2 linked regions of the Homo sapiens genome follow. The protein of the gene in region 1 interacts with the protein of each later gene in a pairwise test. Each region holds a gene or a part of one and is shown on either strand. Other genes may lie near its edges.

Region 1 (3,474 bases):
AGAAAACAAGCCCATTAAAACCCCAGCTGGGTTTTCTCAGACCCTAAAATCTGATCAAATAATAATAGCATTCTTCCACATATTCCTCATACTGGGGTCCATTTAAGATTAAGAAACTTTCCAAGACTCTGGAGAAAGCTTTCCAGACCCTGGACACTAGTTAAAGATTAGATATTGATAAGAATGAAACACGCTGTCTTGCAGGTGCACTCCGCACATAGGCGTGGAGCTTAGAATGCATATAAGCACTAGAAAAAGAAGTTTGTAGCTTTGAGTTGGTCTGGTAAGCTACTCTGACCTTCTCCCCATAGCCAGTTGGAGAAAGAACCTCCGTTCTTTCCCAGTCTGTCTGCATCTCCTTAACGTACATCAAGAACAAACAGCCGGGTCCTGTTCTGTCCCAGAACTGGTGGGAGAGGGAGTGCCTCTCCGAAGCCCTCTCGCGATCCCCACCTCCTCCCCACCCCACCTGGGCTGCTCCCGATGTTGTGACTGGGTTCAGGGAGCCATGGGGTGGTGGAGGCTGGTGTAGGAGGGTGGCCCCTGTCCCAGGTGCGGCCAGGGTCCTAGTCACCGAGCACAAATAACAAAATAATAAATTTAAAAATAAATGGAAAAAGAGAAAATAAGTGTGTGCACGAACAGAACAAATGGAAAGGCCCAGATGCCTCAGGGTGACAGAGAGAAGGGGCCCCACGTCACCCTCTGTGACCCCTTTCAACAGTCCAAGCTCTCTAATTCATGAATTCTACAGCATTCATTTATAAAGTACATAAATTTATTATGATCCTGTGCTTTGCTCCTGGATAGAAGAGAACTTGAGATGATGGAAAATCTCACAGAAGGGTGAAGGGTTCCCCAGCCAGCCTTGGGGTGGTGCCGGGTTGATGTTGGCCATAGGGGTCATCAGGAGGGTTCAGAGTCCCTGGGCCCCCATCAGCACACGCATCTCATGCTGTCCAGAATTCTAGAAGGGGACCTGTGGGCCTCCTCAGGGCAGCTGCAGGGTGGGCCTCAGACAGGTCACAGAATGAAGTGGGCAGTTGAGTGTGTGTTTCTCTGGCCCCCAAACAGCCACTCAGCATCCCAGATCTCAGGTAACACCAGCCTCTTTCTCCAGGCCCACCCAGGAAGGAGAATCCAGGAGTCATCGTTCCCCTGATGTTCCATTAGCTGACACTGGAGATAGTGACAGAGAGAGACACTGAGCGGGACAGAGATGGCCAGAGATGGGGGCGAGACTGAACATGGGCAGAAATGAGGACAGGAGAGCCAGGAGGAGAGGACAGCGGGGTAGAGAGAGTGAGATTCTGAGAGGGAAATAAAAATGGATGGAGACACAGGTGTAGGGAAAGGGAGAGGTGGATTGAATAGAAGCAGGGGGCAGAGACAGGGAGACAAGGAGAATGGGGGCTCCACCCAGGGCAGAACAGGCATGCAGCTACCCTGCACCCACAATCCCACGGAGGGGACAGGACTCACCTGCGACAAAGCCTGTCATCCGAGGTCCGGGCTGAGTCGCAGTTCTGGTTTATCAGCTTCACCATGAAGGTCCAGGGGCAGCACTGCTCAAAGCAGACTCTGAAGGTGCAGTTTCCACACGTCTGGGTCCTGGCCAAGGGCACGACGGCATCATCATAGCAACAGTGCTGCAGGGGGTCGTAGAACTTGTCCCCACATCTCTTGTGTGGCTGGCACAGCATCAGGTAAGGAGTCATGGGGGCCACTGGAGGAGACAGAGCTGGTGAGATCCAGGAGGTAGTGGCAGGTGGGTCCCAGCCTGGGGTCCCCTGGAAGGTGTACCCCTCCTCCAGCTTCCCAAACACTCCTGGGCTCACCTGGGGCTCCGTGTGAGCAGAGGAGCCTGGAGATGCAGAAAATGGCAAAGACAGCTGTGGGAAAGGGAAAGGGAAGATGGGGTGAGTGGACAGCCACAGATATGACTGGCACTGACATTTAGAAGAAGACTGGGTGGAACCAGGGCTCGGTATGGCTTTGAGCAGCTCAGGGACTGAAACAGGGCTGTGGATGGGGCTGATCTGGGCACTATGGATGGGGAATTGCTGTGAGCAATTCACGCCTGGAGATTTGGCTGGGCATGGGAACAGGGATGAGGTGTAGTTTGGGGTAGGGAGAGAGCCCTGGTGGTGGCTGAGATTGGAGATGGGCTCAGGTGGGAATGGGGTCCTGTCCTCCTTACCTACGATGCAGCCTCGGGGAGCCATGGCTCTGGGTGGTTGCAGTGGAGTGAGGAGGGGATCAGCAGATCTCAGCCACTCCTTTTATCCCATATTTCTAGTGGAGCTGGTGATGTCATGGCATTTCCTGCCCTCCTGCAAGTCCTGCAGAGACAGGCTGGGTCCTTGGGCAGGAGAGGTGCCAGGCAGGGTACGTGTCATTGTAGCTTTGATCTCACCTTTGTAATCAGGAGAGAAGCGGTACACCCTCCACCTTCTCTGTGCTATGTGCCCCAATCGTCCCCCACACTGAGTCCTCTGGAAAATAGGAAGGTTCAGGATGCTCCTGGCATTAACACTCTCCGACACTCACATGTCCACACAGCGATTCCACAGGATCCTACTGAGCTATGACTTTCCTCAGTTTCCTTGGGACATTGCTAACCCATGACATCATTTCAAAGGGTCCCATTAGGTCCCAACCTCACAACCGAAACACATGGTCAAGAATCCAGTAACTTCTCAGTCACCTGCAGCTCATGGCATTCAGGTGGGAGAGACTGTGTGACTCAGGCACCTGACTTTCACAGGTTTGGAAGGTGGGAGTGGAGCTGGCGGGACCCCTGGGACTCAACACTCCTCTGGGGGCTCTTCATCTCCTTCTCTGTCTCATTAATGGTCATTTACCCAGGACAGGTCCACTTGGGAGCCTACATGTCCCAGGCTTCGTGTCAGACACCAGTGATGCAGTGCTGAGTAGAAAACGCAAAGTCAGTGTCTTCGTGACGTTCATGACAGTGAGAGGAGAGAGAGAGAGAGAGAAGGTAGGAGAATAAAACTCCTGATTTTGGTTATTGTCGTTCTTGTGTTTGGTGTCATTATCACTGTGAAGTTCTGGTGGAGAAATTCCACATCCCCCCCTGAGATTCTCAAAGGTGTTTTTCCTTAATGTGCTTTTTCAGAGGGTTGGGTTGTGATTTTCCCTGAGAAGAGCCATCTTGGGGTCAGGATGTGAGGACAGAGGGGAAGGAGCTGTTTTGGGTCAGTTCTGTGCCCCCCTACCCCTGCCCAGCTTCTGCAGGAATTCCTCCGCTCAAGCTCACAGGCCACACATGGCATGGACAAGCCGTTCTCCTCCGGGCCAGGCAAGGTGACCTGTCACCCTCTAGGCACCATGGCTGGCTCCTAGCAGGGCATGGATGTGGTTAGATTTGTGTGTGTGGAAGATCCTGCATCTGTGTTCCTGGGGAGCACGGATAGGGGCTTCTCTCTGGAGGCAGGAGACACAGGAAGAGGC
Region 2 (4,298 bases), about 10 Mb from region 1:
TGACAATGGCTTCCTCCATCTCTCTACCCTCTATGCAGGGAATGTACCCGAGGTGGCTTCTGCAACTTCATGCATCTGCGGCCCATTTCCCAGAACCTCCAGAGGCAGCTCTATGGGCGGGGACCCAGGCGCAGGTACCTCAGGACCAGCCTGCTATGTCTCCTCATGTCCTAAGGCCCCTATATCCTCAGATGAGCCTAACCCTAAGCCCCAGTAACCACGTTCCCAAGAATCTTTTTTTTTTTTTTTTTTTTTTGAGATGGAGCCTCACTCTGTTGCCCAGGCTGGAGTGCATTGGCACCATCTTGGTTCATGGCAACTTCCGCCTCCCGGGTTCAAGCAATTCTCTGCCTCAGCCTCCCAAATAGCTGGGATTACAGGCACCTGCCACCATGCCCGGCTAATTTTTGTGTTTTTAGTAGAGATGGGGTTTCACCATCTTGGCCAGGCTGGTCTGAACTCCTAACCTCGTGATCCACCTGCCTCACCCTCCCAAAGTGCTGGGATTACAGGCGTGAGCCACCACTCCCGGCTGACTGTTTTTTTTTTTTTTTTTTTTTTTTTTTTTTGAGACGGAGTTTTGCTCTTCTTCCGCAGGCTGGAGTGCAAAGGCGCAGTCTTGGCTCAGTGCAACCTCTGCCTCCCAGGTTCAAGCAATTCTCCTTTCTCAGCCTCCCAAGTAGCTGGGATTATAGGCACCTGCCACCATGCCTGGCTAATTTTTGTATTTTTAGTAGAGATGGGGTTTCACCACGTTGGCCAGCCTGGTCTCGAACTCCGGACCTCAGGTAATCCACCCATCTCGGCCTCCCAAAGTGTGGGGATTACAGGCGTGAACCACTGCGCCCGGTCATTCCCAAGACTCTTATACCCTAAGAGTAGTTCTGAGCTCCATCTGGAGACCAGTACCTAAGTCCCAATCCCCAAACCAGCCTGAACCCCTAATCCACGACCAGCCTGGATTGCCACCCCTGATACTGGCCACTGAGTTCCCCTGATACTGGCCACTGAGGTCGTGTCTTAGAACTCTAGTTATTTCAGCACCCTCCTGCCTCATCCCAGAGCAGAGAGGCAGGCCTGCAGGATCTCTGCACCACTCCTCAGGGTTCTAACAGAACTCTCAACGCTCCTATTCCCAGGTCACCCCCGAGGTTCCATACTGGCCACCATCCCCGAGAGAGGAACCATCGGTGTTCCCCTGATCACTGGCATGGCCGCTTCTGAGGCCCTGGCCCCCTTACCCTTCACCCCCAACAGGGACAGATGTTCCTGGCAGGACCTCTCCTCAAAGCCCCCTTCACTCTCCTGCCCCATCCTTCCCAGGCTCCCGGGCTCCATAATGTAATCTGTTCAGCATGGAGACCTTCTTCTACCGCCCCTGTCTTAATAAAGCTGCGTGTTTCACTTCGGCATCAACTTGCTTTTGCTGTGGTTTGGCATTTCCCTCCACCCACACATGTGACGAAAAGGGGAAACAAGACTGGGTCCTGGCCACAACTTCAGCTGAGGAACTTGGCACGGCCAGCTTGGGACCCAGGACCCTAACGGTACTGGTAGGGTGGGGACACCTTTGTGCTGAAAACCTTAGCACCTCCATCTGAGGCTTATTCAAGGGGGAGAGACCTGGTTGTGGCAGGTGGGAGGAGCCCTAGCCCCAAGGAGATTAGGATTCAAAGGTGAGGTGAGGTGCTGGGAGGTGGTCTCCAGCCAGTATGGGGCTGACTCCTCCGTGCCTGCCGAATTGTGATGGGAGTTAGTAATGCCTTACACTTAAACACTGAGTTTACTGTATGTGAGGTGCTGTTTTCAGCACTTTAGTTTGTTTTTGTTTTTTTTAAGGAGTTTCATTCCTGTTGCCCAGGCTGGAGTGCAATGGCACGATCTCAGCTCACTGCAGCCTCCACTTCCCAGGTTCAAGCAATTCTGCCTCAGCCTCCCAAGTAGCTGGGATTTACAGGCATGCGCTACCACGCCCGGCTAATTTTGTATTTTTAATAGAGACAGGGTTTCACCATGTAGGCCAGGCTGGTTTTGAACTACTGACCTCAGGTGATCCACCCACCTGGGCCTCCCAAAGTGTTGGGATTACAGGCATGAGCCACTGCGCCCGGCGGCCAGTTTTTTTTGTTTTTAGAGATGAGGTCTTGCTGTGTTGCCCAGGCTGGTCTGTAATTCATGGCTCAAGCAATCCTCCTACCTTGGCCTCCCTAGTAGCAGGGACTACAGACGTGAGCCACTGCACTTGGCAAAGTGCTTTGCTGTTTTTTTTTTTTTTTTTTTTTTTTGTAAAGATGGGGTTTCATTTTGTTGTCCAGGCTGATCTCTCGAACTCCTGGGCTCAAGTGATCCTCCTGTCTTGGCCTCCCAAAGTGTTGGGATTACAGGCATGAGCCACCACACCCAGCCCCTGCTTTACTTCTAATGACGGTTCTAATTCTCCACAATAACCCTATGAGACAGGTGCTATCATTGTCTTATTTTAGGGATGGAAAAGGGAGGGTGGGTGGGTGAGGACACGGCAGAGGTGGGATATGCATTCTTGCAATCTAGATCCGCAGCCCTGTTAGTCCCCTAGTGGCCTTGTGGGCTTCTCTGATAACCGGCTCAGTTGGGGGATGAGGGCTCGGGGGTAGATTCCCGGCTTCCGAAGAGGCGTGAGAATTCTGTTCCCCCACATCACCGCGTCCTTTCTTCTGCCCGATTTCCCCGGAAAGTGTAGCAGAGGCGCTGTGTTTGGAAGTCCCGCTATCACGGCCCCCCAGATGGGGCCTGGACGATGCCTCCTGACGGCCTTGTTGCTTCTGGCCCTGGCGCCACCGCCGGAAGCCTCCCAGTACTGCGGCCGCCTTGAATACTGGAACCCAGACAACAAGTGCTGCAGCAGCTGCCTGCAACGCTTCGGGCCGCCCCCCTGCCCGGGTGAGAATCCGAGACCGAGCCTTGCTTGGGCGGAGCTTGCAGGTGATAGGGAGCGGGGAAGGGGCGAGGTCTGTGGGCTACGGGCCAGAGAGGCTTGCTTAGGGGTCTAAGCGGTGGGCCTTATGCAGATCAGACAGGGATGGCAGGCAGAGCCTGTGCAGATAGTGCGGGCTACCGTAGGGCAACAGCGAATGGATATGGCTGGAGAGGCGGGATAGGGGCCGCGTGGAAAGGGTGGGCTTTATGTAGAGAAGCCGGGAGTGGGCGGAGCTTCGTGCGGAGCAGGCTGGAGGGGGGTGAAAAGGCGAGCCCGGAGAAAAGTGACAAGACCGGGGCGCACGCTAATAGGCTGGAAGCGTCCTGGAGGGGCGGGGCACGCTGGGATAGGGCGAAGGGAGAGGGCGTTGCCCGCGCAGGGGCGGGCTAGGCGGCCGCACTGGAGCGCAGCTTTCCCGCTAGACTATGAGTTCCGGGAAAACTGCGGACTCAATGACCACGGCGATTTCGTAACGCCCCCGTTCCGAAAGTGTTCTTCTGGGCAGTGCAACCCCGACGGCGCGGAGCTATGTAGCCCCTGCGGCGGCGGAGCCGTGACCCCTACTCCCGCCGCGGGCGGGGGCAGAACCCCGTGGCGCTGCAGAGAGGTGCAGATGGGACTCCCGGCAGGGCAAGGGCGTGCTGGAGGTGGGGGGCCTAGATGTAGGGAGCCGGCGTAGCCCCACGTAAGGGGTGGGGCCGTGGTTTCAGGAGGTGGCTGGCCTGCAGGGGTCGGGAGGTCCTAGGTTAAGGTAGTTGGGCCTTGCGGGGCCCAACTACCTTATCAGATACCGTATCAGATGGGATGTGGCCCCATTAAAGGATATAAAGTTGGGAGGTTTGGGAGCGGGCAGGAGTGGAGTGTGGCCTCCAGCTTTACTCCAACCCCTTATCCCCAGAGGCCGGTCCCTGCCAAGGGGCACTGCCCCCTCACACCTGGAAACCCAGGCGCCCCTAGCTCCCAGGAGCGCAGCTCACCAGCAAGTTCCATTGCCTGGAGGACCCCTGAGCCTGTCCCTCAGCAGGCCTGGCCGAATTTCCTTCCGCTCGTGGTGCTGGTCCTGCTCCTGACCTTGGCGGTGATAGCGATCCTCCTGTTTATTCTGCTCTGGCATCTCTGCTGGCCCAAGGAGAAAGCCGACCCCTATCCCTATCCTGGCTTGGTCTGCGGAGTCCCCAACACCCACACCCCTTCCTCCTCGCATCTGTCCTCCCCAGGCGCCCTGGAGACAGGGGACACATGGAAGGAGGCCTCACTACTTCCACTCCTGAGCAGGGGTTAGTCCTGGAGGAGCCCCGGGGCAGGGAAGGTGGACTGGACGCCCGCTCTTCCGCACCTTTAC

The links.
Region 2: the proteins of IGFL1 (region 1) and IGFLR1 interact in binary tests that used the Homo sapiens proteins (3 or more experiments, as listed by UniProt).

What each region holds. Positions count from the first base shown.
Region 1 is NC_000019.10:46,228,526-46,231,999, reverse strand, and holds IGFL1 (insulin growth factor-like family member 1 precursor), read right to left. Parts: upstream 2,259-3,474; 5' UTR 2,226-2,258; coding exon 2,201-2,225; intron 1,893-2,200; coding exon 1,839-1,892; intron 1,727-1,838; coding exon 1,483-1,726; intron 1,180-1,482; coding exon 1,170-1,179; 3' UTR 757-1,169; downstream 1-756. UniProt on the Homo sapiens protein: Probable ligand of the IGFLR1 cell membrane receptor.
Region 2 is NC_000019.10:35,739,645-35,743,942, reverse strand, and holds the start of IGFLR1 (IGF-like family receptor 1 isoform a precursor), read left to right. Parts: upstream 1-1,490; 5' UTR 1,491-1,547; exon of another isoform or gene 1,548-1,553; intron 1,554-2,714; exon of another isoform or gene 2,715-2,719; 5' UTR 2,720-2,762; coding exon 2,763-2,919; intron 2,920-3,378; coding exon 3,379-3,563; intron 3,564-3,854; coding exon 3,855-4,233; intron 4,234-4,298. Other genes in the region: U2AF1L4 (splicing factor U2AF 26 kDa subunit), read left to right, coding at 39-134, 1,140-1,345. UniProt on the Homo sapiens protein: Probable cell membrane receptor for the IGF-like family proteins. Binds IGFL1 and IGFL3 with a higher affinity. May also bind IGFL2.